Regions from separate parts of the Homo sapiens genome. Here region 1 is linked to region 2. The links come from fine-mapping of genetic effects on gene expression. A gene starts in region 2. The other region holds a variant in brackets. All regions are shown on one strand. Distances are from middle to middle.

Region 1 (15,645 bases), 75 kb before region 2:
ATACATTTCTGTTGTTTCAAGCCATCTGGCTTATGGTAATTTGTTACAACAACCCCAGGAAAGTAATAGAGCAATGAACTTTAATTTTTAGTAATACCACTTGAGCCAGCAAAATCAACCTGTGAGGCAGATTAGGCCTGCCAGTCATCCTCACCCCGGTTAGAGTCAAAGGACACTCAATGCCATGTCATCATTATCTCATCATTATTTTCTCCAAAAATGATGCTGCTGCCTCTCCAACAACTCTACGTAGACTGAACCTCTCCTGAGTCCCAGAGCCATATTTCCACATTCTCTGGACATCTTCATTTGCAGGACCTGCAGGCAACTCCAACTTAAGGTATCCAAAATCCAGCTGCATTCTTTATTGTGTGAAATCGCCACCACTTTGGACCACTGGTGTGCTGGAGCGGGTTGTGCTGGCTCCCAAGAGTCGACTATAAAATACTCAGGAATTTTCCCTGCTGGTTGCTAAACTGTTGGTCCCTTGAAACCTGCCATGGTGGCAATATTTGTGCCACAAAAAATTGGCAAACACTACAATCAGGGGCTCCGTTTTTGGGGAAAGCCAGTTCACCAGCAAACCACCAAAACTTCCACCCCATCTTCCAGGTGAGAAAGCCCACTTCTATTTTATTTCACACTTTCTCATTATACTTCACACCCAGCCAGCAAATCCCATTAATTCTCTCTCTGCAAATCGTTACCTGTGTCAACTTCTCTCTGCTTTCACTGCCCTGCTCCTCCTAATTCGGGTCTCGTCACTCTTGTGTTTGAATTACTACAACGGTTTCATAATTTTCACCCTACCCCCAATTATATTCCTCAAACAGGGAGTTAGATTATATTGGTTCTCTCCTCAAGCATTTTTAGCATCCAAACATCTTTGCCTGGCAATCAGAGCAATGATAGTTAGGCTTCTTTCCATTGCAACTGGCAAGAACCCAATTCACCAAGCTGAATCAAAAAGGGAACCCGCTAATTCATAGAAGCCCAAGGGGAATGAGACTGCAGGTAAAGCTGGATCAGGTCTCTGGCTTGTTCCCCATTACTTGGCTCATCGTCTTTTTGCCTGGTTTCATTCTCTGGTATGTTCTCTCCCTGTGAGAGGCAAAATGGTCAGCAGCTGCCCTTGAATCACATCCTCCTAGCTCAGTGTAGTGTGACAGAGTAAACTGCCTTCATCTTCCCACTCTTTCAGCCCTCCTAAAGTCATGCCTTGTCTATGCGACTTTGCAGTTCCTCTTACTGAGGACATGGAGTCTGTTTCCTCATTCCTTGAGTCTGAGTTTGGTCATGTGACTTGCTTTGGCCAATGGGATGTTAGCAAGAGAGCCTTGAAAAAGCACTTGTGAGGGCCGGGCGCGGTGGCTCACGCCTGTAATCCCAGCACTCTGGGAAGCCAAGGCGGGCGGATCACGAGGTCAGGAGATCAAGACCATCCTGGCTAACACGGTGAAACCTCGTCTCTACTAAAAATACAAAAAATTAGCCAGGCGTGGTTGCCGGCGCCTGCGGTCCCAGCTACTTGGGAGGCTGAGGCAGGAGAATGGCGTGAACCTGGGAGGCGGAGCTTGCAGTGAGCTGAGATCGCGCCACTGCACTCCAGCCTGGGTGAAAGAGCGAGACTCCGTCTCAAAAAAAAAAAAAAAAGAAAGAAAGAAAGAAAGAAAAGAAAAAGCACTTGTGCATTTTCACTTGCTCCATCAGGACATGCTGGGCTAGCCCAGTGAGGATGGTGCACGTGGGGCTGCACTGAGCTATTCCAGCCAAACCAGCCACAGCCAGCGCAGATCAGCAGACATGCAGCCAATGTTCAGCCATGTGAGTGAGCCCAGCCAAGCCCCACCAAGCCACACAGACTTGGGAGCTAAATAAATGTTCATTGTTGTACGTAACTGAGGTTTTGCGGTTGCTCATTACACAGCATTATTGTGGCAGTAAATAACTGATACATTTAGTGAAGTCATTGGAAAGAGAATTTCTCTCCTTATCTATATAGCAATCTCAGGGAGCACCGACTAGCTCTGCGTGCACCCCATGCCCAGACCCTGAATAAGAGGATCACAAGGTTTGGTTGAACATGCTGGGTCCCAGGAGTGTGGGTCACCATGATTGACAACCTCACAAGAACTGTATGAGGCTGGGCACAGTGGCTCACACCTGTAATCCCAGCACTTTGGGAGGCCAAGGCGGGTGGATCACCTAAGGTCAGGAGTTCGAGACCAGCCTCGCCAACATGGTGAAACCCCATCTTTACTAAAAATACAAAAATCAGCTGGGCGTGGTGGTGGGCGCCTATAATCCCAGCTGCTCCGGGGGCTGAGGCAGGAGAATCACTTGAACCTGGGAGGCAGTGAGCCGAGATCACACCACTGCACTCCATCCTTCTCTCTTATCTGCCTCTCTGCCTTATCCCTGGATCTCCCTCCGTAAGCATATTGGATTCCCTCTTTCTAACTACTTGTCATTTCCCAAACCTACCACCCGCTTTTGTATCTCTTTACCTTTGTACAACTGCTCCTCCCACCTGGAAGGACTTCCCCCTCCCTCCCTCTGCAAATCCAGCTCTAATCCTTCCTTGAGGAAGGACTCCAGTCCCAAAGACAGAGAAGACAAGGGGTTAGCAGAGAACACAGAGCCAAACCAGCAGCCAAAGAACAGGGCCCAGGGCACAGGGCAAGGCTGTGCAAGGGGTCACTGTAGTCCATGCAGAAATCTAGGACCTGGATCCGGAGCAGTGACAAGAGCTAAGACCTGAGGGCAAGTCCAAGGATTCGCAGCCCCCTGCCAGGATCAGCTCAGGGGTGGAGCAGAGGCTGCAGGGGTGCAGACAAGCCAAGGCAGAGAAGGCAGGAGTGACAGGGGTGGCAGCTGGCAAGGAGAGGCACTCCTGGCATCGAGCTCACATTGGATAAAGGCTTGGAGGCAGGATCAGAATCTGAGGGATTTAAAGCAACAGAGAAATAATAAGGACACAACTTTTCAAGCCTTTAGGGCATGCCAAGTACTGCGCTAAGAAATTAATTACATTATCTCTGTAATTCTCACAACCACCTTATGAGGCAAAATACAACCAACATCCACATTATACAGGGGAGGAAACAGGCACAAATAGGTGGCATGGCTCCCCAGAGTCACTCAGCTGGAATGCAAGTCCAGGCCTCCTCGGCTCCAGAGCCCATTCTTTTTTTTTTTTTTTTTTTTTTTTTTTGAGGCAGAGTCTCTCTGTCACCCAGGCCGGAGTGCAGCGGCGCGATCTCGGCTCACTGCAACCTCTGCCTCCCAGGTTCAAGTGATTCTCCTGTCTCAGCCTCCCAAGTAACTGGAATTACAGGCATGTGCCACCACGCCCAGCTAATTTTTGTATTTTTAGTAGAGACGGGTTTTTGCCACGTTGGCCAGGCTGGTCTGGAACTCCTGACCTCAGGTGATCTGCCCGCCTCAGCCTCCCAAAGTGCTGGGATTATAGGCGTGAGCTACCGTGCCAGGCCCAGAGTCCATTCTTAATCATTCTGCTTTCTTGCTCAGGATGGGGTTGAACTTCCCCACTCCTCTGATTTTCTGATTTTAACTGAAGGGAAGCTTCTGCTAAGTCCAACTCCAGACAGGCCAACATATCAGCCTCCAGGCAGCTTTTCTAATGTTAACTAATCTGATCAAATTCACAGACACCTCAAAGGTCAGCTGAGAATCCCCTTCCTCGAAGAAGACATCCCAGACTCCCCAGATGAAATTCATCTCTTCTTTCTTTCTGTTCCCACGGCATTTTGTCTCCGCCTCTGCTCAGCCCTTGGCTCTGTCTGCTGGTTTTAAGACGACATCTGTGCACAACTCTCCCAACTGGCAAAGCCATCCTTGAGGACTGACCATCCTTTGGGTCCCCCAAGACACTTGACCCACGGCCCCGAATGCTAAATTCCCACATGTTGAATTGAATGTGTGTCTCAGTATTTACCTAGCTCCATCAACCTGAATCCAATAAAGTTGTCTAATGAATGCATCTTCTGCCAATTACCAGATTTCTGTGAGTTGTGTTGCAGTAGAGATTACAACAGTAAGGTTGCCCTCAGCCAGGGTCAAGGTTCACAGAACCCCACCTTTTTGGCTCTGGATTGCACATCACATCACACAGATAAGCCTCAGGCCTTTCCTCTGGCCCACAGCCCAAAGGAACTGGGGATGGGGAGTTCTTTCCTTGAAGGAGGTCCAGTGGGGGAAAAAAAAAAAAAAAAAAAAAAAAACAGAAACAAAAGCTTTCCCCCATGCAGTGGCCATGCCAAGTGGGTGTTTGGCCATTTCCAAGTGAGCAACTTTTTTGAATTTGATTTTGTGGGTGCTTTCAGCAAATTAGAGCCACAGTTACGCTGTGACTTAACAGGATTAGTCATGCACACACATCCTGTGCACACACTTCAGTCCCCTATTAAAGGAAGCACAAGCCAGAGGCTGGCAGGAGAGGTTAGAGAATTACCTCCCATCTCCTCAGACCCTTCAGGCACAGTGTGGCAGAGTAAATACAGGGCTCAGGCACATCAGAATTCCAGATAATCGATGGCTAACTTCAGTATAAGTGTATCCCATGTAAAATTTGGCACATACTTACACTAAAAAATATTCAAATTTAATCGGGCATCCTGTATTTTGTATTTGATAAATTTGGTCATGCTACTCAGGCAGGATCTTAAATGCTGAAGTCCAGGACCCCTGAGCTGCTTCCAGGGAAAGTCCTCATCAATGACAGAAGCAAGATGAGAGAAACCATAATATGGGAATCATCTGGGCTATATGGGGCTCACACATGAATGTCCAAACACATGGCATAAAAAGCCTGATCAGGTGCTCAATGCAATTTACACAAAACACTTTTTGAGGGTATAGTAGCTTAGATAAAGCCCATTAGCATCCTTAAATTAATTCTTCACTCGGCATAATAACACATCCTCTCTCCCTTACTTGTTTTTCCCAGGGGAAATATTTGATCACTTCCGTCAGTCACCTGCTTGAATGCCCCGTATACCAACTGTGTGACAGTTATTGATTTTTGATGAATGATACAGCTCTCTCTTCTGGGCTATGACTGCTTTGTTTTCAAACCTTACTTAATTGTGCGATGATTTTGGGGGGTTTTTTTCCCCTTTCCAGAGAAATAAATGCAAAGTGTTTATTCTCCAAAGGCCGTAAACAGAGCTTGCGGGTCTGGTTTCTATGACAACCCCACTTGATACAGCAAACCTAGATTATCTCTAATGACAGACATGAAGTTTAAATTGCACATTCTGAACAAACACTGCTCTGCTGACCTTTTATTGAAAAATGGAATACAGGGTGATTAGCATAATGTGTTATATAAAAAGGAAAAACGTGTATTCGTGGGCATTATGCACCAGCGATTAGCCGCACTGCTAGTCTTTAACAAACTGCTTGCCGGGATGGAGAGCTTGGGAAATTAAGATTTGCCATCTATCATTTTCAAATTCAGTAAAATCTGCAGCAGTAATTGCACTAAACAGTTTTCAAATAACACATGCTGCTGTTTCTCTTATTCAATTGAGTCTTTTAGCAGGGGAGCACAGAAGGAGAGGAAAATTTTACCCATTGTACAAAAAATAATAATCGTTGGCTCCAATAGCTAGTCTGAAACAATCTCTGTTTCTTAATCCCCTAATGCAATTCCTGGAGGAAGCCTAGGGCCTGGTGTAGCCTGGCAGCTACCTCCTGGAAACTGCTCATTAGCAGTGTGGTGCAGTGGGGGTCCTGGGTGGTTAACCAGAGGTGGGGGCTAAGCGTGGTCCACCCGCAGGTTAACTGGGCCTGCTCTTAGCAACCACAAAATGAAGGGTTGGAGAGTTTGGGCTCTGAAGTAAATGACCTGGTTCAAATCCTAGCCTTTCCTCTAGCCTCCCTATGGGCAAATTACCTAGCCCCTCCAAGACCCAGGTCCCTTGTCTACACTATGGGAATGAGAGTAATAGGTCCCACTTCACAGGATCATTGCAAAGATGGAAGGAAGCAATACCCAAGAGCGGGCAGGGCCAGCCCCCAATGACCATTAGCCACTCATTGCTCAGAGTTCAAGTTCTGTCTTCTATTTCCATGAGAGTGTGTTCATATCAGGACTTCGCCGACTGGTACTTTTGAGCACTAATGAGATAATATGGAATGATGGAAAAGAGCATTTGCTTATTCCTTCAACCACATTTACTGAGCACTGGCTCTGCAGGAATGCAACCCTGAATAGGACAAGGTCAGTCAGGAGCCGCCACCAATGCTCTTAGCTGTGTTACTTTGCACTTGTCATTTCATCTCTACGAAGAAATAATATTTACCATTTGATTCTCATAACAACCCTGGGTGAAGGAGGTCATTTTACACATGGGAAAACTGAGGCTTGGAGTCACGAAGAGGTGGCCGAGTGGGGTGCACTGGAGTTTGTCATGGTACCTTTGAGTGGTCAGAATGCCTTGTCACAGATGCTGTCACTTGACCCCCAGCCTAACAGGGCAGGTCACAGACTGGCCCAAGTGTCCTTGGCTGCCCTGCAGGTGGGGATGGTCTCAATGTCCAGACACCACCCTCAGGGTCTCAGCCTCACCTTGAACCTCTGTCCTGGGTGCTCCCAGACATTCTTGTGTCTCCCATGGGCTTAGGCACAATCTGTCACCTTTCTCCACCCTGGCCTCCTCACTGCAGCCCACAAGCCACTCGGGTGACAGGCTTCACCTGCCCCTCGTCATAGTGCTCAAGATGTCATCTCTCAATGTGCCCAGTGCACAGAACCTGCCAGGCACCAGCCAGCCCTTGCTCTCTTGGCCCCTCTGAATCCAGGCTCCAATGGCATAGGGGCCCTCTCAGTCGGGGTCACACATGGTCCCCCTGCAAGCAGATGCCTAAGCCCTAAATCTCACAGTGTTTCACCAAAGCAGCTACTTCTGTTTCCTGCTTCTAGAAGGGCTCAAAACCAGCTGTTCCATCCAAGGGCTGGGGGAGACAGACAGCATAATCCCTCCCCAGTGTACATCTCTGCCCCAGGCACACCTCAAAAGAAGCCTTGTTTCTCTTCCTTCCACAAAACAGAAAATATCCTTCATGCATAATTTTTTTTTAATTTCCTACCTCAAAGCCAAATGGCCCTTGAGCTGCAGGGCTATGTGGCTGCACTATTGTTATCCCCATTTCTCAGAGGAGATGTGAGGCTCAGGAGGTCACGTGGCTGCTCAAGGTCACACTAGACTAATAAAGGGTACAGCCAAGGCCTGAACTTACCTGAGCTGACCCCAAACCCAAATCCAGTGTTCTCTTCTCAGCCTGTCCTTCGATGCCGATATGAACTAAAGTGACTGAATTCCATCAGAGGTTTGAAT[T/C]GCACAAACCTCCAATCTTTCAGGGTCATCAACCACAGTTATTGTAATAGGCTGTGCTTCTTCTAAAAGCACAGAGTCTTACTCACTCTGACAATTGCTTATCCTTGGAGCATAACTGCAAACAAGACCTAAATCTGCAAATTGTGTCACTTCCAGAGCAGCCACAGGTCAGCAGATGACCTGACAAACAGGCTGTCACAAATGGCTTCCAAGGTGGGCCAGGGCTAGTGTCATGGGCCCTGATCCCTGTCCCTTAACTGTGAGCCCTCCACTGGTGTCACCTGAAGTGCCCCCGCCCACACCATCCCTTTGTTTATTAGAGACATCCATCTCCTCCCAGCAAGTGAGAGGCCACTAGCTACCCTCCTAGGTTAACTCCATTATTCCCAGCTCCTTGAGCAAACCCTCTTCATCACTGAGAAAACACAAACTTTTGCTAGGAAGTTGGGGTGAGACCACATCTGGCTTTGGGTCAGGTTTTCCAATTAGTAGCCAGATGTGCACAGCTCAAGCCCCAACCAGCTGCACTTGAAACACACCAGTTCTGTTAAAGGGCAGACAGTGCAGCCCATTCTCCCCATCATGGGAGAAGGATAGAGCTGCGATTCAGAGTCCCTCATTGCCAAGAAGCCACAGCCAGCCTTCCTGGAAAGTGACAGAGAACACAAGGCTAGTGTTTGCTCCAACATCTGGCAGCAGATGTAAGTGGAGCCCTGTTTCTGAGAAGAGCAAGAACCGGGGAGGAGAGAGAGAATGTTGGCTGCTCCCTTCCTAGGGAGGACAAAACTCATCCACATCCCAGCATTCCAAATAGAGTATGGACAGAGAAAAACACTTCACAGAGAAACCTGGCAGGCGCCCCTGAACCAGGTGAGCCCCTGGTTAACATCACTAGTGATAAGGCATGTTGATATCTTGTACCCCTGTGATACGATGCACTGAAGACATTTCCCCTCTGTGAGCTTCTTCCCCAAATCCAATCCTCAGTCTACATATCAGAAAACATCAGCCGGGCACAGTGGCTCACGCCTGTAATCCTAGCACTTTGGGAGGCCGAGGCAGGCAGATCATGAGATCAAGAGATCGAGACCATCCTGGACAACATGGTGAAACCCCATCTCTACTAAAAATACAAAAATCAGCTGGGTGTGGTGGCACGCACCTGTAGTCCCAACTACTCAGGAGGCTGAGGCAGGAGAATCGCTTGAACCCGGGAGGCAGAGGTTGCAGTGAGCCGAGATCACACCACTGCACTCCAGCCTGGCGACAACGCCATCTCAAAAAAAAAAAAAGAAAAAGAAAACATTAGGTCAACTCAAACTGAGAAACATTCTATTCAACACCTGACTGCTCCTCTTCAGAAGTATCCAGGTAATGAAAGGCAAGGAAAGATGGAGAAACTATCACAGATCAGACGAAACTAAGAAACAAGGGCCAGATGTTGTAGCTCACACCTGTAGTCCCAACACGTTGGGAGGCTGAGATGGAAGAATTGCTTGAGGCCAGGATGTTGAGGCTGCAGTGAGCGAAGATGACACCTCTGCACTCCCAGCATCTCAAAAAAAAAAAAAAAAAAAAAGAAAGGAAGGAAAGAAGCTAAGGAGCCATGACAACTAAAAGCAATGTGGGATCCTAGATTAGCAGATTAGCTCCTGGAACAGAAATGGACATTAGTGGTGAAAACTAGAGAAATCTGCATCAAGTCTGTAGTCAGTTAATAGTAATGATATACCGATGATCATTTCTGAGTTTTGATGAATGCAGCATGCTATGTAAGATGGTAACATGAGACTGGGTGGGGGTGGATAGGAACTCTCTGCATAATCTTTGAAACTCTTGGGGAAATCTAAAATTATTTCAAAATTAAAAGTTGTAAAACAAACCCCAAAAACGAAGCAAATGCTTTTTTCCCCCTTAATTTTTAAAAACGCCTTGCCTTCTCATAACAGAGCATCAGGGCAGGCATCTGACAGCCTGGGCTCCACAAGAAAGCCCTCTGCACCTTTCCCTTCCCTCTGCCTGTGGCTTGTGCCTTCCTATCTCGATTGTCCTATGCTCCTTTGGCACTTGTCAGTCCAACCTGCCCATCCTCATCAGCTGCTTTCACCTCCCATGCCCTCTTCCACAGGCGACAAAGCCCATCTTTCAGGAAGAGACAATGCCCCCTTCTCAGACTCCAGGGTTCAGTTCTTAGGAGCTGATCCCATCCCCCATGGTGGGCAGGTCCAGGACCTCACTTGGCCAGTCAGCCCACTACCTCTGCAGCCTGGCTTTTGGGATTGGTTCAGAGATGGGTCCTTTACTCAGGACTTTGAGAGTGAGGACCGGAACTTGTGCTAAAATTACTGGAAAAGAGGCATAGTCTTTCTGTTGGGGTTGCTAAGCAGGTGGAAAATAAACCTGGGACTGGGGTAGGGGGCACCAGGTGAAGAACACCCCCTCTGTCTGAGAGTGAAGCCAGCCACAAGGAAAGCAGAGCTGGGTGACGGAAAGAGATGCAATGACTTTGCTTGAGCCCCTAGGATCCAGCTGTGCCTCAAGCTGGCACCCTCATCAGAACTTTTCTGTTGCATAAACTGGTATTTCCCTTTTTGGTTTAAACCAAAACTCCAGCTGAGTTTCTGTTGCTCACAACCTCCAATGTTAAGCCTCCCCTGGTGGCAAACTGTGAGTCTCTCCTCCTTCACCAGCTCCCACTCCTTTCTTCCCCAGGCCCTGGGACCAACTCTGCCTGAAGCAGGAGGGAAGAACAGGCTCCAGCCAGCCTCCTGGGGTCTGACCCCAAGATAAGGCTGTAAGTGCCAGGAGTTTATTTGGGAGCTACTCCCAGGAAGCATAGCTGAGGCAAAGAGGCAGGAAGGCTGTGTTCCAGAGCAGGTTATTGCCTGGCAAGAGGGGCCCAAGCCTGCTGGGGACCTCCAGGAGATGGCACAGACCACTCATCAGTTACCCTCCTGAAGGGAAGAAACCTGGGGGTAAGGGCATGTGGTGGGGGTGGGGGGTTATACACCAAATTTCATCCATCCTGGGTTGAGGGCTGCTCCTGGAGTCATTGTTCATCTGTTAATGTCTCAGAGCACATGCCCAACAGAGCAGCAGGTGCTTCCAAGAAAAGGACTCACCTGCGTACAATGGAAAGGTGAGTGCACAGGTGAGATGGCCAGGGACCAACAGCTGCTGCGACATCTGTGGACCGTATCAAGGACCCTGGGCTCCTGGTTTCCTGCTTGGTTCTCTAGCCTCTGGGGAGTCCCTCTGGTTCCCCTCCCCAATTCCCAGGCCTGTGCTCTGCCTTCCCATCAACACCCTGGATCTGCTGTGACAGTCACTTGGGACCATGCCCTGTGGACATGGGCACACATTGTTCATATGGACTCCCTGTTCCAGCAGCTCAGGCCCCACCCCCAGCTGGAAACTCCAGTTCCAGGGTGGCCCCTCCAGGTGTCAGTGGAAAAGGCATCTGACAGCAGCATGGTGACTTCCTCTGAAGCCCGACTGCTCATACCCACCTGAAGCCGCACAGCACAGATCATAAAAACCAGGATGGTGCAGGCACACAGACCCTGGGGTTAAACCCCAACTCACCCCTGGCTTGCTGGGCCATTTAACCTGGGAGAATGATAGACCCCAGTGCTCAGGACTGCAGTAAGGTTCCATGAGATGGTGTCTGTGACTCAGCCAGCATGCAGTAGACACTCACTGGACACAGTGGCATCGCTGCCAGATCTTGGAAAGTAGAGAAAGCCCCTGGGATGGTTACAGTAACTCCCAACCCAGAGCCACCTGCTACGGATGGGTTTTTGTTATGGTTCAAATTATGTCTCCCAAAAAGATACATCTTAACCTCCACTACCTTGAAATATGATCTTATTTGAAAATAAGGACGTTGCAGATGAAATGAGGTTAAGACGAGGTCACACTGGAGTAGGGTGGGCCCCTAATCCAATATGACTGGTGTCTTTATAAGAAGAGAAGACACACAAAGACAGACACACAGAGACAAGACAGCCCGGTGAAGACAGAGGCAGAGATTGTGTGATGCCGCCACACACCAAGGAACACTCAGGACTGCCCACAGCCGCCAGAAGCTGGAAGAGCAGGAAGGATCCTCCCCTGCAGGGTTCAGAGGGGGCACGGCCCTGCAGACACCTTGATTTTGGACTTGTAGCCCTTGGAACTGTGAGACAATCAAGTTCTGCTGTTTTAAGCCACCCAGTTTGGAGTACTTGGTTGATATTAGCTCTAGGACACTAAGACAGATTTTCACTGATCTCTTTCCAGGTTTCCAAAGGTAGATTTAACCATTTGAATGGAAACCATGCGCCAGCCACTTTTGTGGGGGGTTTCCCAAAGTGTGTTCTGGAACTGCAGGATGTCGACGGTTGTTGATGGTTGACCTGGAAAAATATGTGAAAAGGGGTTCTGTGGTCGACACGATTTGGATGTGTGTCCAAGCCCAAATCTCATGTCAAATTATAATCCCCAGTGTTGGAGGTGGGGCCAGGTGGGAGGTGACTGGATCACAGGAGCGGATTTCTCATGAATGGTTTAGCGCCATCCCGTCAGTGCAGGTCTCATGATGGTGAGTGCTTACAAGGTCTGATTGTTCAAAGGGGTGCATGACCTCCCCTCTCTCTCTCTTGCTCGTGCTCCCGCCACGTAAGACGCCTGCTCCCATTTTGTCTTTCGCCATGAGTAAAAGCTCCCTGAGGCCCTCCCAGAAGTAGATGCCACCACACTTCCTATACATGCCTGCAGAATCATGAGCCAATTAAGCCTCTTTTCTTGGCGGGGCATGGTGGCTCACGCTTGATATCCCAGCACTTTAGGAGGCTGAGGCGGGTGGATCACCTGAGGTCAGGAGTTCAAGACCAGCCTGGCCAACATGGCAAAACATCGTCTCTACTAAAAATACTAAAATTAGCCGGGCATGGTGGTGCACACCTGTAATCCCAGCTACTCGAGAGGTTGAGGCGCAAGAATCGCTTAAACCCAGGAGGCGGAGGTTGCAGTTAGCTGAGATCACACCACTACACTCCAGCCTGAGAGACACGGTGAGACTCCTTCTAAAAAAAAAAAACAAAAAACTCTTTTCTTATAAATGACCTAGTCTCAGGTATGTATTTGTAGCAATTCGAGAACAGACTAATACAGTGGTCAAGTAATCAGGGAACAGTTGAACAGTTTCTTGCACGACTTCTCAGGGCCTTTAACATGCTAGTGTGTCTTGTGAATACCCATGAGCGGATACAGGAATGGTTGTCCTACTTCTATTTTTTTGTTTTTTTAGTTTTGATTTTTTATTTTGTCCTAAATTTATGTAACCACAGAAGCCTCTTCTCAGAGCCTCTGGTGGGATTTGCCTCTGTAGAGTGGAGCTGGGAAAATCCTGCAAGAGCGAGTCCAGTGGTAACAGAGGAAAAGGCCCATGTTCAGGGAGTTTGGAGCTCCCCATATGGAAGATGCATTTGCCTCCCTGTGGGATAACCTCAGGGCCACTTTAGGTTCATGGGGCTGCAAGCTGGTGCTCTACAGATCTGCAGCAAGAGTGTGACTTCCAGTCCTGTGTTGCACTGAATTCCAGGGACCGCGTGTGTCCCCGTTCCCCTCCCCAGCCACCCCCCACCACCCCCCATACACATAGTTGGCATTTAACCTTGCCAAATATCTTTGGTATGGCAATAGAATGATCTGGCTCCTAAAGAAAGAAGTCAGAGTTCAAAATGCTGAGTCATTCACCACGAGAGCAGTGCCTGAGGAGAAGTAGGTCAGCCTGGGCCGAGCCTCCCCACCCCTCCTTGGCATCAAAAGCACCCAGCACAGTAAAGGCAGCTCACACATGGCCGGGGCTGTTCTACAGGCTCTATCTGTATCCACTCTTTAAAGCCTCATGACAATGCTACAAGGGGTAACTGTGAGTCTCCTGAAATTCCAGATAGGAAACTGAGGCACAAGGAAGGGAGGAGGGATGGACCCCCAGCAACCCGGCCACATCCCTAACCAGAAACAAAGGATGGATCATCCTAGACACTGCAGCAAAAGACAAGAGTTAACCACTCATTCCCCAAACACAGGAGCAGACCCCACCCTTGAGAAGCTTGCACTGATGGAGACAGACAAGCAGCACCCCCACGGCAACAGCAGTGGGCAACAACCTGCTAGGAGGAGGCCCGATGCCATGGGAGTACCAGTAGGGGTACCCCGCCTGGACTTTGGAGGTGGTGGTACTCAGGGAGAGCTTCCTGGAGGAGGCAGTCTCTAAGCCAGGTTCTGAGAACAAGTGGGAGTTAGCCAGGTGAAGTAACTTTAACATGCTAGTGTGCCTTGTGAATACCCATGAGAGGATACAGGAGTGGTTGTTTCAGCCCAAGGATGCACCTGTGCAGAAACTTAGAAGCCAGGAGACAGCAAGGGCCTTTTGGGGAACTTGGGGAGGAACAGAGTAAGAAGCCGAAGCCAGCTGCCATCAAGGAAGCTCTCTGACCCACAGCCACGCTGTAAGTTGGAAAGTCTGGATTCAAATCCTGACTCCATTTATTCCTAGCTGAGTGACCGTGGGCTGTTAAACAACCTTTCTGGGCCTCAGCTTCCATATCTGGAAAATGCAGAAAGGAACAGTACCTTCCACACAGGGCTGTTGTGTGGGTGAAAGGATCTGCTGTGTATCAAGCACTTGGCCTAGGCATAAGGAAGCACTAAGTGGTGTCCACATCGTCATTGGGTAGGAGTCAGCCCAAGCCCTCCAGCAATTCAGCAAGAGTTACACAAAGTTACATTCAGTCCTGCAGAGCAGGTCCAGCTAAGTACAAAGGCAGGCTTGGGGCTTCCAGGAAAGGGGAGAAGCAGCCGGTGAGACCACAGGAACATCCGCCCTCCCCGCCCTGGCCCCAGGCCTCCGGGTTGCCTCCTCCTTCCCAAGGTAAGGCCCTGCCAAGAAATTCCACTGAAATTCCAAGAAAGTTCACTTTGAGTTTCACCCAGTCCCTAAATGGAAACACGCATGCGCACGTGCACACACACATGTGCACACGCACACACAGCATGAGGGGAAACCTAGAGCATCTTTATTTTATCCCCACCATGAAGCGGACTGGTTTGGAAAAGTACCCTGCCTGCCTCTTCATGGGGCTGGGTGTGGTCCTGAGCAAGATGGCAGGAGGTGGACGTGAAACCCATCTCTTCCCCCGCCGTGGGGACATCATTTCTCATTGGGAGTTGGCAGAAGGAGCTGTGATAAGGGGCGTCCTCTCTCCAAGCCTTGGGGATCTGGAAGGGATGCAGGTGATTCCACCCATAAAAAGCATCCTGGCAGATCCCCAAGCTGGGCCACCTGCATCTGCAGCATTTCTCATGAGGCCTCCTCATGTAGATTCATGGAAAACTTGGTAGGGTACTTTTCAGGTGGACATTTGACTATCTTAAGCAGGTGCACCCCTTTAAAATGGGATCTGGAGCCGATTACCCCCACCCTGAGTGAGAAGTGCACCTGATGGGGGAACTTATCACCCGTGGCCTCAGATTGTTAAGCGACAGCTCCAGCCCCTTGATCTTGGTGTGCCCTCGGCTCTCCAGACTGGTAGCTTTCAGGTCAGCAGCAGCCATGGGGAGGAAGTGTGCCTTATTCTGGTTTAGAAAGCACTCTGGTGCTTCAGCTTCTGAGCACCTATCCTTTAAAATGCCCCCTGGTTACAATAAATTGTACAGAAGAAATGTTGTACTTTGCAAAAGAACTTTTTAATCTCATTTAAAAAAATAAAATGACTCGCTGACTCATGAATGCCACCAACCCTCTTAGTAACACCAGGATTTGGAATTGTGCCTCACCTGTCAGCAGAGGAGAGGGGATGCTGAGGAGAAAGGTGAGAAATGTCCAGTGAGGTTCCTGAAGCCTGGACCCCCAAGCACCCCCTCGCTCTGACCTCTGACCCCGCAACACAGGCTGTTCCTGTCCCATTCCACGCTGAAAGAGCTCACTGAACACCTGCCTCATTCACCGCCCTACACCTTGCCTCTGCTTGGCCTTGACAGACACTAAGACAAGTCCCCTCCCATCTGCCTCACGGCCCCCACCTGACCCCCTGCCCCTCCTCTAATCCATCACTGAGATTCATTCCTACAAAGTGCAAGGACACTCACCACCCCAATGCTTGCCTCACACTGGCATTCAAGGGCATCTGCTCCAGGGGCCCAACAGGATCACTGGCGAATGGAAGGTGACAGACAGGGAGCCACACCCGGTTCTCAGGTCCTGTAGGGTTCTCAGGAGCCTGTGAATGGAGGG
Region 2 (15,645 bases):
TGTAATCCCAGCACTTTGGGAGGCCGAGGCAGGTGGATCACTTGAGGCCAGGAGTTTGAGACCAGCCTGGCCAACATGGCAAAACCCTGTCTCTACTAAAAATACAAAAATTAGCTGGGCATGGTGGCACGCACCTGTAATTCCAGCTACTCGGAAGGCTGAGGCAAGAGAATCGCTTGAATATGGGAGGCAGAGGTTGCAGTGAGCCGACATTGCACCACTGCACTCCAGCCTGGGTGATGGAGCGAGACTCTGTCTCAAAAACAAACAAAAAAAGATGTTAGAATTGGGAGATCATTCTGCACATTCTGCATTATCCCAGTGAACCCAGTGGGACCACCAGGGTCCTGGAAGGTGGAGGAGGGAGACAGAAGAAAGAACAAAGAGGTGCCACGTGGAAAGGACTCAGCTACCTGCTATCCCTGGGTTTTGAGAAGGGAAAGGCCACGAACCACAGGAATGGCAGGCAGCCTCCAGACGCTGGGAAAGGTAAGGAAACAGGTTCCCCGCCAAGAGCCTCCAGAGGGAATTCAGCCCAGTGAGACCCACTGTGGACTTCTGACATCTAGAGCGCTGAGAAAATCAGTGTGTTGTTTTCAGCCACTATATGGGTGGTAATTTGTTACAACCGCAACAGGAAGCGAACCTGCCCCCACCAAGTGTCATCGCCTGTTTACTTGTCTGTCTGCCCAATTCGAGTGTAAGCTCCATGAGGTCAGAAGTACGTCAGTCTTATTTGCCACTTATCCCCAGACCTTGATGGTAAATAAATGAATTTTAGAGATGGAAAGGGCCAAGAAATCACTTAGGCCAGCCCAATTATTTTAAACTGAAATTTAAAACTAAGATCCAGAGACAGGAACTGATTTTGCTCGAGGCTACTCAATTTATACAGAGCTTGGATCCTCCATCCGCTCCCTGGGGCCCACCTGCCTTCTGGTCACTAAGCCGTAGAAGCCTGAAGACAGACACAACTGTGGAGAGGCAGCTCCGAGCACACAAAATCCCTGGAGAACTCAGGACGGCTGGGAGAGGATCAGTGCAAATCAGATAAGACCAGAAGAAGATGGCTAAAATGACTTGAGCAATCTTTAAAATGTTAGTCCCGGCCCAGCGAGGTGGCTCACGCCTGTAATCCCAGCACTTTGGGAGGGTGAGGCGGGCGGACTGCTTGAGCCCAGGAGTTCTAGACCAACCTGAGCAACATGGCAAAACCCCATCTCTACTAAAAATATGAAAATTAGCCAGGCGTGGTGGTGCATGCCTGTAGTCCCAGCTACTCAGGAGGCTGAGACAGAAGAATCGCTTGAACCCAGGAGGCAGAGGTTGCAGTGAGCCAAGCTCGTGCCACTGCATTCCAGCCTGGGCGACAGAGCAAGACTGTCTCAAAAATAAAGTTAAATGTTAGTCCCAAGGGGCAGCTGATCCACCAGTAACAACCAGGGCAGAACTGTGCCCAGCACCTGATCAGCTGAATTCAGGAGACTCTCCACCTGAAGCTTCAGAATGGGGAAACAAGAAAAGGGGTACTAATGTCAAACTTGAGGCCCGCCTTCAAGAAGCTCAGCATTTCACACCTCGGCCAGAGCCAAAGCTTTGGGCTTTGAGCAAATTAGGAAAAGACACTTCTTCCACAAGGTATCTTTTTCCATCTGTCAGTGAAGTGTCATAATATACTGATTTCGTTAGAAGATACTTTACTCAAGGTCGGCCAGAAAATGATCACAGAGTTACTATGTCTATGAAGTAAAGGTGCCCCCTTAGATGGGAAGCGGTTGTGCAGTACACAACCTGCAGAACTGTACACAACCTGCAGAACCACACATAGCATTCTTTGCTTGGCAGTCTGGTCCCATCCTTTCCACAGCCCTCATATCCCCGCTTCCCCTCCCTCTGCCTAGAGCCCTCAGACCTGTTGGAGAACAGTCTCAATCTACAGGTTACCATTTTACATGTAACTCCTTCCTGTCAGCTTTTTACTTCCCTCCCCCTGCAGACAGCAGGGATTGACGACGGGTGAGAGAAGGCTGATGGCCCCATTTAGGGAAGCACAGGAGGAGGTGGGGAGGCCGGATGTAGTGAATTCCAAATGAATGAGTATCCACGGGCCAGGGGATGATCAAGGAGGTGTGAGGGTTAACAGTGCGGGCCTTGAAGAAATGCCACCTACCAGCTAGCTGTGAGCTGCTGGGCATGCTTTTAGCCTCCCAAAACCTCATTTTCCCTTTTGTGAAATGCTTATCATTGTAGGCCTGCTGGGAGGATTTCAGAAATGATATGAGTGAATGCTTAGTGCACGGTAAGGGCTCAGCACCTGTGAGCTACTGTTATTGCTATTATCAGCATCATCAGCCCAGGGACATCTGCCCTTCCGCCTGTCAGCCTCCAGGCAGCTCCTGCTTTAAACAAAATTGGGACACTCCAGATTTCTAAAAGAAAACCACATGGCAGGGAGGAGGGCAAGTGCTGGAGGGAGAAAGGATTACTCACTTTACCAAAGTACCCACTACTGGATAAACAGAAACACCCAGACTGCTTTTAAATGGGGTTGGTTTTGTTCAGGGGACATTGCTGACACGGACTGGAATGTGTCCTCTCCTGCCCCTGCCGCTGTGTGTTGCTGGCCAGTCTCCCGCACATCTGGACCCCAGAAGTCCCAAGAATGACCGGGTGCATCCAAGGAGGCACAAACCCAGGTTCGGGGAGTGAGAGAAAAATGGGTGCAAATCTCAGTCCTGCTGCTCCTGAGCTTCTCAGCCTTGGGCTCCATGCTGAGCTTTGCCCCCGTCTCCAACAGGTCACCAGCGCACCTGCCTTGCGGGGCAGGGTTGGGGGTGGGGGGCACATGGAATAGTGCATGTCAAGCACCTGGTGCTGATGGTGGTGGTATTATTACCAGCTGGGAGACTTTAGCCCAAGGCAGGGGGTGTGAGATGACACCACGGCACCCGTTTCCCATTCTCCGCATCCCCTTCCAGCCTTGTCCACACACAGAGAATTCTGACATGGTCGTCACCTCCACCTGGCCAGAATATGGTAGCCTACCTTTTCGACAGAATAACCAAATGTATTTTTTTTCACAGTATTACATGTTTCATTTAGAACAAGGGTGTCCAATGTTTTGGCTTCCCTGGACCGCAATGGAAGAACTGTCTTGGACCACACATAAAACACACTAATGACAGCTGAAGGGCTTAATTAAAAAAGGTCTGTGCATAATCTCATAATGTTTTAAGAAAGTTTACAAATTTGTATTGGGCCGCATTCAAAGCTGTCCTGGGCCACATGAGGCCACCTGGCCACAGGTTGGACAAGCTTGATTAAGAATGAAGTCAACTGCACGTATAAAAGGATACCTGGACGTGGTGTGGTGGCTCACGTCTGTAATCCCAGCACTTTGGGAGGCCAAGGCAGGTGGATCACCTGAGGTCAGGAGTTCAAGACCAGCCTGGCTAACATGGTGAAACCCTGTCTCTACTAAAAATACAAAAATTAGCTGGGCATCGTGGTGCATGCCTGTAATCCCAGCCACTCGGGAGGCTGGGGCACCAGAATCGCTTGAACCTGGGAGGTGGAGGTTGCAGTGAGCCGAGATCATGCCACTGCACTCCAGCCTGGGTGACAGAGTGAGACACTGTTTCAAATAAATAAATAAATAAAAGGATACCTGACTTGAAGTGGCTGAAATAATAGAGATGTTATAATTATCTCGTGTAACAAGTCACCAAGTCATCAACAAAAATATCACTAAGGTTTGTTTTTTGTTTTAACTTTTCTGGTAAGCCATCACCTTGCGCCAGCTTTGTGTCCTTAAGCCTTATCACCTCAGCTCTATAGCCTGAGCTGAAGAAGGTGAGGGCCCTGGTTCTTTATTTCTTCCCCCTTTTTATATAAGGAAGCAAACCCCTTCCCAGTATCCTCCCAGCAGACAGCAGATGTCCGCTGAGATCTCCAGGGTGAGAATGGGTCACCAGCCCTCCCCTTACCCAGTGGTGACTAGGGGAAATGGGATGTTTCTGCTTAAACCTGTCACAGTTATGCCCCGAGGCTGAGGGAAGGAATCAGAACAAAGTTAAGTCTGCAAGGAGGGGGAGTGGCTGCCATTTTACTCGACAAGAGCCCTTCACTGACCAAAAGCAGCATCTGGGGCCCAGAGAGGTTAAGCCCCTTGTCCACTACACGTGACTTTGCACCAGCGCCAGGGTGCAAACCCTGTCCCGAGGCCCAGTAAGCTCTCCCCACTTCACCATATGGCTTCTCCACAACAGCAGACCCTAAGCCCAAGCCCCCCAAAGGGCAGGAGCCCCATCCCAGGACTCTCTGAGCTTGACAGAGCCATGATGTGGACAAAGTCAGCCAGGAGAGGGCTCCTCGTGCCCAAATGCACCTCACCCACCTCCAGGCCCATGGCTGACGGAGCCAAAGCACCTCCTGTCCCTGGCAAAGTCCTGGCAGGGGGTCAGCGGGAACCCAGAACCTGACAAACAGCATCGCTATAGCCGCCTGGACCCCGGCCAAGCTGCCTCATTCCCCAGGGCTGACCTCATGTTTCTGAAGAGCCTCAGGAGCCTGAGGTCTGTGAGCTGCCTCACAGGGTTCAGTTCTGCTGCCAGCAAAGGAAATGGCCCGGGCTGGGGGCCATGTGGAGAGGTGGGAGCACAGAACCCAGGCACCCTCCCCACCACCCACCCCTGCCCTGCCAGAGCCCTCAGCCTGTGCCAGGCAGGCCCCACTGCCCCACTCCAGAAGAAACCAAGCAGCACCCTCTAACTTCTGAGGTGTAGCCCATGCCCACCTGTCTTCTCACCTCTGCCGGATACCTGAAGAAACGTTCACAGACTGGCTGTTTCCATCTGTTTCATTCCAGACTCCTGGAAAGTGAGCAAAAGGCAGTGAGACTTCATCAGAGGTGCTAAGAACATCTCTGAAATCGTGCCAACACCTCAAAGAGCTAGAGAGCTCACAGCCAGGCTGAGGCCTGTTGCTGGGTGACAAAAGTCACTGTTTATTTAACCCAGAGCTGGGCCAGGTGCCCACACTGGCCTTTCTATGGTCACTGAGAGCAAAGGCTCCCAGGGTACTGAGGCCCAGCGTGTGCTCCACGACAAAAGCCTTCATGCACTTGGCCTCCACTTCCCGACTTCCCTTCTGGGTCAAATGTCTACTCACCTCGTATAGCAGTCAAGGGGAGCAGCCTGGGGAAACAGCCCATGGCGGACCCCAAGACACACTCATTTCTCCACCTCCTTCTGGGGCATCTCCATCCCAGCTCCACTTCCCACATACCCAGGCTGCAGGTCCCAGCCAAGGTGTTTGTTCCTATTCTTATCCCTTAAAAGTTTTTATTCTCCCCGTACAACCACAAGGGCCGAAAACCATGTTGGGAGGCAAGAAGGCTTCCGCTTCTGTGCCATCGCCTCTCTGGCCTGACCAAGGGGGATCAGACACAGCAGCTGGCAATTTTAAACTTTTCCTGCCAAAGTTATTCTCAGAACTGTGGCTCCCCATCTTCAGAGCTTGAAAAGTCTGCATGTCTTGAAAGGATGCAGGCTGCAGGGCTGTGTGAACCGAGCGGAATTTTCCATTCATAGAATAATCATCTTCATACCACTCTGGGGGGCTGGCGTTCTCGTGGTAAAAGCTCCGAGTTCAGGGTCAGCAAACCTGCCAGGCGTCTGCAGGAGCCCTGCGGCATGGAGGTTCTTTTATTTATTTTTGGTGGAGAAGGGGAGGAAATAAAGGAATGACTTTCTACCTTGCATGCCAACACAAACTTGGAAAAGGATCTGGGTTGGCAAGTGCTGAATATTACTGCCTGGTTTCATGACTTACATCAACCATCGGGGGCTAGAAGGAAGAGGCCGAAACATGGATCTTTAACCCCTAACCCAGAGAGGCGGCCAGAACAGGCCTCACTTCACTGCTTCAGGTCCTTTCCCGCGCCTGCCAGCCAGAGCCCTGGATTGCTCTTTGAGGGCAGGGGCCCCAGCCAAGGCCATATCGCCTCACCTCACCTCACTTCTTTCCAGCTTCCCCTGTGTTGTGCCTTAGAGTTCTGCGGATGCATGCACAGACTTATTGTCTGAGATACCTTGCTGGTCCAGGGTGTAGTGAGAAGGCCACCCGGCCGGGAGTAACAGGACCAGAGTCTTAGTTCTGTCACATAGTCACTGTAGCCTTAAAGAAGTCCTGCTTGGCTGGGTGCGGTGGCTCACACCTATAATCCCAGCATTTTGGGAGGCCAAGGTAGGCAAATCACCTGAGGTCAGGAGTTTGAGACCAGCCAATACGGTGAAACCCCATCACTATTAAAAATACAAAAATTAGGTAGGCATGGTGGCACATGCCTCTAAACCCAGCTACTCAGGAGGCTGAGGCAGGAGAATCGCTTAAACTCAGGAGGCAGAGATTGCAGTGAGCCTAGATCGTGCCATCGCACTCCAGTCTGGGCGACAGAGTGAGACTCTGTCTCAAAAAAAAAAAAAGAAATCCTACTCTTCTCTAGGTCTCATTTTCTTCATCTGTAAGGATTGGACAGAACTGGGTGCAGTGGCTCACATTTGCAATCCCAGCACTTTGTGAGGCCAAGACAGGAGGATCACTTGAGGCCAGGAGTTCAAGACCAGCCTGGGCAACATAGCGAGACCCCCATCTATTAAAAAAGAAAAGAAAAAGGCAAGAAAAGATCGAACAGAATGATCCCAAAGATCCCTTCCCATGCTGACATTCTGATTCCCTCATTCATTCATTCTAATATTAACCAATGCCAGCACTAGGTTCTGGGCATCCCCTGCTGAGCCATTCTAAACCTGCTGGGCACAGCCAAGACCTGTGAGTGTGGCCTCAGGCCTAGTGAGGGCTCATTGTTTCCACAGCCACTGCATGGTCCAGAGTGAGGAAGGAAAGCCCCATCTGCCCCATGAAGCCCACCCTGCCAGGGCCCACCTGCCAGGGGAGGCATTTTCCTGATCCCAGTTCTAGGTTTCATCCTAGAAGAGCCCTCAGTATCTAAAGCCTTTCCTACTTTCAATTTTTAAAAAAGTTGGGAAGTGTAAGACCACCTGCCATCTTCCTAATCAAAACTCATCTTCTGGCTCTTATTCTCCATGGCTTTTACACAACATGTTTTATTCATTTCAAAGTATTTAATTATAATGTTGAGGCCAGGTGTGGTGGCTCATGTCTGTAATCCCAGCACTTTGGGAGGCCAAGGCAGGAAGATCGCTTGAGGCCAGGTGTTCAAGACCAGCCTAGGCAACATAGTGAGACCCTGTCTCAAGAAAAAAAAAAAAGAAAAAAGAAAAATCAAGAAGAAAAAAGAAAGAGTGAGAAAGAAAGAAAGAGGCCAGACGCGGTGGCTCACGCCTGTAACACCAACACTTTGGGAGGCCAAGGCAGGCGGATCGCGAGGTCTGGAGTTCAAGACAAGCCTGGCCAACATAGTGAAACCCCGTCTCTACTAAAATACAAAAAATTAGCCCGGCATGGTGGCGGGCATCTGTAATCCCAGCTGCTTGGAAGGCTGAGGCAGGAGAATTGCTTGAACCCGGGATGCGGAAAGAAAAGAAAAAAAAAGAAAGAAAAGGAAGGAGGGAAAGAAGGAAGGAAGGAAGGAAGGAAAGAAGGAAGGAAAGAAGGAAGGAAGGAAGGAAGGAAGGAAGGAAGGAAGGAAGGAAGGAAGGAAGGAAGGAAGACAAAATATAACATTGAATACACGTTGTTTTTCAAACTGCACATACAACCCACATTTTGACTCAGGCCTCTGGGGCGAGGGGGTACACACACACACACACATCCCAGTCACTGTCCTAGGCTCTCCAGCCATGAGATTTTCCGGCCCAGCCCCAACCCCGACCTAAGTAACCGGCTATCGGCCACCCATTGGCTGAAGTCCCTGAGCACCTGTTGGGAGGAAGGCTGCTGCGTGCAGCCGGAAAGTCCTGCGTCCCTCCGCTCTTACCGCGGCAGGAACCACAGCCTCCCCGAACCTCAGGGTTTGTATGGATTTCGCCCAGGGGAAAGCGCTCCAACGCGCGGTGCAAACGGAAGCCACTGGCTGGTTGGGCGGCTGTGATGGGAGAGCTGCATCCTTCCAACGCGTCCAGCTTTTCATGCTGATGTTGGTGAGAAGGGGGTGGATAGCGGGGATTCTCAGGATTAGGGCCTAGGGCCATTAAAGGCTGGGAGGTGGGGGCGTAAACCTGTGGCCACCCTGACCCCTGTCCTCGGGGGGCCTCACCACCAGGCCGAGGAGACCCAGGCCTGGTCACCTGCTCCAAGCCCAGGCCCGGCGCTCGAATGCGGGCCCCAGCGGCCCTCCCTTCCCGGCCCTTCTCTCCCCTACTTTCTCCTCACCTCCCAGCTGCGCGGAGAACACGCCCCCTCCCCGTGTTCCCACCAATCAGCGTCCGGAGCGGCGCCCGAGGCGCCGGGGGGCTCTGGTCTGCAGCCAATGAGCGCCACGGCTCGAGGCGGCGCCTCGCCCGCCCCCTCCCGGAATGAAGGCCGCCCGACAGCTGGCGAGGCTGGCGCAGCGCGCGGGGCGCGGGAGCCGCGCGGGCTGGAGCGGAGCGCGCACACAGCCAGCCCGCCTCCGCTCCGCCTCCGTCCGGGGCGCGGGCGAGGTGGCCGGGGCGGGGGAACGCAGGGGGCAGGGCCGCGGCGGCGAGGCCGGGGGGCGGGGAGGAGTGGGCCCGATAAAAGGCGGCGCGGCGGCCCCACCCCGCGGCAGGCCGGCGGGCAGGCTCGGCGTGTCCCTTCCGTCCGGCCCGCGCCGGCGGCGGGGAGGCGGCGCGCGGCCCGCAGCCCGCCCATGGAGGCTTTCCCCTGGGCGCCCCGCTCGCCCCGCCGCGGCCGCGCCCCCCCGCCCATGGCGCTCGTGCCCAGCGCCCGCTACGTGAGCGCCCCGGGCCCGGCGCACCCGCAGCCCTTCAGCTCCTGGAACGACTACCTGGGGCTCGCCACGCTCATCACCAAAGCGGTGGACGGCGAGCCGCGCTTCGGCTGCGCCCGCGGTGGGAACGGCGGCGGCGGCTCCCCGCCCTCCTCCTCCTCGTCGTCCTGCTGCTCCCCCCACACGGGGGCCGGGCCTGGGGCGCTGGGGCCGGCGCTGGGGCCGCCCGACTACGACGAGGACGACGACGACGACAGCGACGAGCCGGGGTCCCGGGGCCGCTACCTGGGGAGCGCGCTGGAATTGCGCGCGCTGGAGCTGTGCGCGGGCCCCGCCGAGGCCGGGCTGCTGGAGGAGCGCTTCGCCGAGCTGAGCCCGTTCGCGGGTCGTGCCGCCGCCGTGCTGCTGGGCTGCGCGCCCGCCGCCGCCGCCGCCGCCACCACCACCAGCGAGGCGACGCCGCGCGAGGAGCGGGCCCCGGCGTGGGCGGCCGAGCCCCGGCTGCACGCGGCCTCCGGGGCGGCGGCCGCCCGGCTGCTGAAGCCCGAGCTGCAGGTGTGCGTGTTCTGCCGGAACAACAAGGAGGCGATGGCGCTCTACACCACCCATATCCTCAAGGGCCCCGACGGGCGAGTGCTGTGTCCCGTGCTGCGCCGCTACACGTGTCCCCTGTGCGGCGCCAGCGGCGACAACGCGCACACCATCAAGTACTGCCCGCTCTCCAAAGTGCCGCCGCCGCCCGCCCGCCCGCCGCCCCGCAGCGCCAGGGACGGCCCGCCTGGCAAGAAGCTGCGCTGAAGGCCCGGGCTCCCGGCCGCCCAGGGTCGCCGCCGCCCCTCGCACCGCTAGGTCTGCGCACCATCTCGCCCCCGCCGTGGGGAGGCGTGCGGCTCAGCGGTCGGCTCGACATGGGACGTCGTCCTGGTGGTTTTTGAAAAGCAGCCGACCGTGTGGAGTACTTCCGTGCTGAACGATTGGGACTAGACGCTGAAATCCCCATTTGTCTTCAGTTTCTAGTTTGCACATCCAGAACGGCGAAGGCTGGGTGTGTATTCCACTAACTGAAATATGGCAACTTAGAGGCGCTGTTTATTTACTGTATACGTCGACCTATTTTAGATGCGCATCAGTATGAAATTGTCTCAATCTTGGATGTTTCATTTTATGAATGGAGGCACTTTACTAGGTCTAGAATATTTTTTTAAAAGCCTCTGAACTGAGCTTAAAACTGGCGATTTTATGAAATGTCGGCAAAATGACTATTTTATTGTTTGAAGCGAGTTAATATTCTCAGTTGTCTTTAAAAATCAGTTACTCTAATTCCAGGTGAAGCAAGCCGCTGGTAGCATCACCCTTATGAGAAGTGAAGGTTTTGTAAACTTTCCAGTATTAATTTGGGCGGGTATTCCCCGCTTGTGGCTTGTTTCTGTCCTAGCTGGAGGTGTAAAATGCACAATGTGTAGCAGGTAGAATACAGCTCCTTATCGTTCTATGTACCAGGTATTTTATTACTGAACTAGCAACTAGCCTTTTCCACCTTTAAAAGTTGTGCCAAGTCATAATCATATTGTGTATAACTTGGAAATGGTGCTGTTTAAAAAAATTGTGTATTTATACAGTAACAGTATGAATTCATTAATCTCACCTGTAACTTTCCTACTTGGCATTTTCTCTACACACTCACCCTCTTCCAGTTCTTTAAAAACGTTTATGATATTAAGATCAAAGGGAGGAAGGGAAGACAGCAGTATTAATTCACCCTAGATTACTCAATTTCAGGGTTCCTAGTGGAGGAAAGCCCATTCCAGCTGTTGCCTGTCAAACAAATAGAAGATGGATCTCTAGCTCTGAGCTATTCGTGTATTAACTCGTATTCAAGAAGGTTCCACCGTGGGCTGCGTCTGACTTTAATACAGGCAGTGCTCAAACTAGAATAAGCACTAATTAAAGGAATTGTTGGGGGTCCTTCATGTGTTCCCACTCCTACTGGAAGACCCATGTCGGTTTCCGGAACCCCACCAGTTTACCCATAAGCAAGACTAAACCTGATCCTTGGGCAAAAGTTCCTAACCCCTACTTTACCCTCCCACCCTCACTTTTAAATCCACCATACTGAATGCCACACTATGGAATGCAGCTACCTGCCAAGCAAGGCAATAGAAGGCAAAAAATGGAAGTGAATTAAGATGAACTCATCTGAAATACACAAATGCATTACTATCTGAAGATACCAGCAAGAGTTTAGTCTACGTGTATAAGGCTCCCAGTAGGATTTAGCTAGGCTACTAGAAGTTAGACTGCTTTCGCATTAAACAGCTAACTTCATCCACAGCAAATTGACTCAATCAGGAACCTTCATTTGAAGGTGTGTTAGAGGATGGGGTAAATACCCGATAGCTGTCTTTTTGGTGAAAGAAAAGGTGCATTTCAAGAACTTGGGGGGCAGGAGGAAAGCACAATGTTTCTTAGCCAGGAAAGACAAATAATCCAACGCTGCTAGTCTTAACCCCAGACCAGAGAGAACTGCAGATCTGACTGGGCCTAAATTAAGTAGCTTAATGAAACCATGTAATTACTTGTTCTCCTTTCTTTTGCTATAGAAAATCTACCAGTTTAAATGAGCTTCACCTTCTGGGTGAAGTTTCTAAGGTCAACATGAATCCTCTTACCTCTCTCACTGCTCGTGTTCTGCCTTTTCAAAAGGACCACTATGAACAGATCAGCGCATTCTCTAGGCCAAAAGGGCTAGCCAGGTGGCAAGATCAATTTAGCTACTTTGTATTTTCAGAGTCAAATTACAGACGGTTTCCAAAGGTCTTGAGCATGGGGCTTTGGCATAGCCTCAATATATGGGAGTCACTGTGATGAGATGTGCCTAATGTTAATTTGATATTCTGACATTGCTATTTTACCAGAACTAAGAACATATTGAGCTGGAGCTTCTTGAGGGCAGGAGAGTATTGGAAAAGGAATCCAGAAGACCCTCTCCACTACTCAGGCAGCCACTATTCATCTATTTTTAAAGTACCCCATTTTCAGGCCGGGTGTGGTGGCTCATGCCTGTAATCCCAGCACTTTGGGAGGCGAGGCGGGGGTGGATCACAAGGTCAGGAGACCAGCCTGGCCAACATGGCGAAGCCCCGTCTCTACTAAAAATACAAAAATTAGCCGGGTGGTGTGGTGGGCGCCTGTAATCCCAGCTCCTCAGGAGGCTGAGGCAGGAGAATTGCTTGAAACCAGGAGGCGGAGGTTGCAGTGAGCCCAGATCACGCCACTGCACTCCAGCCTGAGCAACAGAGCGACTCTGTCTCCAAAAAAGAAAAAAAGTACCCCATGTTCAGCCCCTGTGCCAAATTTGCCTAGGTTTTCCAGCTGACAATGAATACTGGGAGTTAAAACGCAGAGTATTACTATAGTTAATTTTCTAGGGTTCTCTTATGAAAAGTATATGTAAACACATTCATTTAAAAATCCTTGGAACTCAATGTGGAACTTTAAACATTTTGCAAAATTACATTTAGAGAAACCCAATTTTTCAAAGTTTAAGAAATATACAAAGTATGACAAAATTATCTTCATAAGAACATGCTGCATACTTGCCTAGTAGCAAAACAATACAGGGAAGAGTCAAAAGGGCTTCTCCAACTGTAGAGGTACAGATTGTCTTAACCTGTTCTTTTCTGTACAGACTTAAAATTTCTAGTGGCTTTTATTTTTCTTTGTATTTTAATTTTCCTACAAAGTCCTTTTTGGAAGTTGCAGAATTATTAGCTTTGATGAGAACAACTTTTGTCATAGATTTGATTTATTAAACCAAAATTATACATATTAAAATTATATCACAAATATATATGCTTCCAGACAAAGAAAAGTTTGTTAGTCCTGATTTTCTAATCGTAGCCACTCAAGGAACAGTCCTTTCATAGTACCCCAAGTATTTCAATTAGACTTATAAAAGTATAAGTCAATCTATGGTCAGTGTCTTTGGTTAAAAAAAAAAAAAAACACAGGCAGTTCTTTACATAAAAACGTCCCACACGTTATAGATGCCAGCCACCTCCTGGTAGTCACTATGGACAACTAATGAGATGCAAAGTCTTTTGGACCGATGATGTCTCTACTACTGGATCTATCTGTATTAACAGCAATGTTACTCTCAATGAAACTGCAGAAGCCACCATGAACATGGAAGACCACCTAGCAGATCGGTGAGTAGGCTGCTTGTTCAGCTTTCCTTTAACACCTGTTGGTAAATACTAATGGGAGTAGACAGAGTTGTATGGCCTGGACAGTGGAAACCAAGAGCAGGATCGCAAAGTAACAGCATCAGACTCTTCTGCCCTCCTCTTGCACTTGGGTTCTGACTCCCAGAACAAAGAACTTGGGAGAACAGTACGGGAGACTGAGCAGAAAGGATGGGTTTGCTGACTCGCCTTGAAATCTAACTCTAACGTAGGCAGCAGTAACTCGTCTGAACAAATCTGATTAAATAAATTCTTGGGGCTTACCTGTGATGTCACACATACAGATCTACTCTCCAGGAAGCAAACTCTTAGCAAGTTACTGCCCCACTTGTAATCACTGATCTGAAATTCTCTTGTTATGAAAGAAAAGTCCTTCTCCCCACGAAAGACCTTTAAAGACTTCTACGTATTTGAAATACCAGATACTAAGGTGTTTAAAATGATTTCTATCATTGGTAACATCAAACAAAAATAGCTGCATCTGGTTAAGTTAAAAAGCATCAATACTCCCTCTTCTGGCCCTACAGCTGTACCAATAGGAATTCTCACCACTACTCAATAACAGAAATAAGTGCCTACAGCCATGATGAATTTGTAACATTTTCTCAAATTAACTACGATTTTTCTAATTTCAGGTGAAAACCCAAGGTGGTACTTCAAACACGCACATGCACACACAAACTCAGAGGACAGCGTTACAAGGAAACTAAGGAATTCCTGCATTAACAAAGGAAGACATGTTAGGGGGACATCCTAGCCACATATGCTTTCTTTGTTATATTTAGGTTCATTTTCATTGATACTAAACACAGACATTTAATGGCACTGATAAAAATTCAAGTAAAAAAAACTCAACTGAATATGCAAACTTACCATTATAAACAAAATACTATAACCACAAATCAACACTAAAACAAATTCTGTAAGTATTTTATTTATCACTGAAGAAAAAACACAGCAGCAAGTTCTGTGTTGGCTTCAATGAGACCAAATAGTTCATCTTTAACATAGCTACTGCGCTCCAAAATTGAAGTCAACACAGTCATTACTACAAATTACTTGTTGAAAGAATCTATCTTCAAAAGAAAGAAAATTAGGAAAGAGAATTTAAACGATTCCTCCAAACCATACATTTATAAATATTGTCATATTTAAAATGCTTGAAAGGCATGAATTCTCCATTAATGGAAAAGCAGTTTGCTATTGGCAACAGAAAAAAACTCAGCGATAATTTACCAAATGCTTTAAAATTTAAAAGCTATACTGTTTGGATTCACACTTGCGCAGTAATCTTGTCATTACAACAACTGCAAATTGCTTTGTACTCACCTTCTCTCAAGTAAAATCTAAAGAAAACCCCACCGTATCCAATGTTTGTAATGTTTACTTCAAGTGAATCTAAAAAATTTCTAAATTTAGTTTATGGTAAATACCTCAAAATACCTAAAATAGGTACGTATCAACCACTTAAGGGTGTGAAAATTGTTTCAGATTCACTGCTTTAAAGGGTCTTCAAATATATTTTAACAGAACCTTACTTCATTCCAAATTATTATCAGATATTTCAAAATCAAAAAAAAAGTATCAGTTCTATACCAAGATAAAGGTGTTACTCAATACCTGAAGGGTCACATTTTAAATTTATTTTTTAGTTTTTCTTTTTTGTCAACAAATGATTGATGAAATAATGCAACACCCTTAAATTCCAGAAAATGGCATGGTTTTTCCAACCTCCTGTGGATATGGTGCATGATCAATCTATTATATAGGATTAATACAAGTTCATGCTTTTTGTGTTATGGTGAAACAACATTAAAGAATCCAATTTAGATTGGTTGAAGCACAAGTATAATAATCCTTGAATGTGATCAAACCTATTTAAGACACCAGTTTAAATCCATTATCTTGAGACTTAACGTCGTACTGTGGTCCATCCATCTTCATCAGTCTCATTTTTAGTACGACGGAGAGATTCCCTATCTTTCTCAGCTCTCCATGAGGCCTTCTCTTTTTCACCTTCTCTTTCTCGGTCTCGGTCTCTTTCTCGGTCTCTTGAAAGAGCTGGGGGAGGAACTCGACGAGGAGGGTCCCGCTCTTCCACCCGGTCATCTTTCCTGTCATCAGCACGTCTCCAAGAACTTACTAAAAAGTTTAATTAAAAAAAAAAAATTAAGTTAGTACTATATTCTATTGGCTCAAATTACTCAAAATTCCTGTACTAAAGATTGTTAAATACAGAAATCATTGTTAAATACAGAAATTCTGTTAAATTCTGTATTGTTAAATACAGAAATCATAATGAAAGCTCATACAATTTCTGACAATCTTTAACATACAAATGTACAGATAAAACTCAAAATCTGAAAACAGGCAGAAACCACTAGCCTGGGAAGGACTACAGTTAGTATAAACCCGTAAGACAAGGTGGCAAAAATCTGGCTGAATGAAAATTTTATAACTGAAAGGATTTTTGGCTCTTGAAGAATTTTAACAGCAAATTAACCATAC

Alleles and levels. Alleles are on the strand shown, and positions count from the first base shown. SD is a standard deviation of normalised expression in the study named.
For the expression in adrenal gland of the gene that starts at base 8,582 in region 2, C is the low allele of the variant in region 1 and T is the other (moderate effect, 0.52 SD a copy in GTEx).

The links.
Region 1: its variant is fine-mapped to the expression of LINC03036 in adrenal gland (GTEx, PIP 0.94).

The regions. Positions count from the first base shown.
Region 1 is chr10:118,946,173-118,961,817 of GRCh38, forward strand. The region is part of intron 2 of LINC03036 (long intergenic non-protein coding RNA 3036); the gene reads right to left. Among named protein-coding and RNA genes, the nearest start is that of LINC03036, 76 kb to the right of the region's middle. RefSeq lists enhancers at 12,773-13,503, 13,504-14,233. The variant T/C (reference allele first, on the strand shown) is at 7,365.
Region 2 is chr10:119,020,990-119,036,634 of GRCh38, forward strand. LINC03036 (long intergenic non-protein coding RNA 3036) reads right to left here and starts at 8,582. Exons shown (of 4, transcript NR_186540.1): 1 at 8,356-8,582; 2 at 4,808-4,871. NANOS1 (nanos C2HC-type zinc finger 1) reads left to right here and starts at 8,725. Exons shown (of 1, transcript NM_199461.4): 1 at 8,725-12,741. The coding sequence starts at 8,813. The coding sequence ends at 9,691. EIF3A (eukaryotic translation initiation factor 3 subunit A) reads right to left here. Exons shown (of 22, transcript NM_003750.4): 22 at 12,681-15,279. The coding sequence ends at 15,050. RefSeq lists enhancers at 1,318-1,960, 1,961-2,603, 3,789-4,362, 8,002-8,502 and silencers at 8,327-8,796, 8,917-9,126, 9,497-9,796.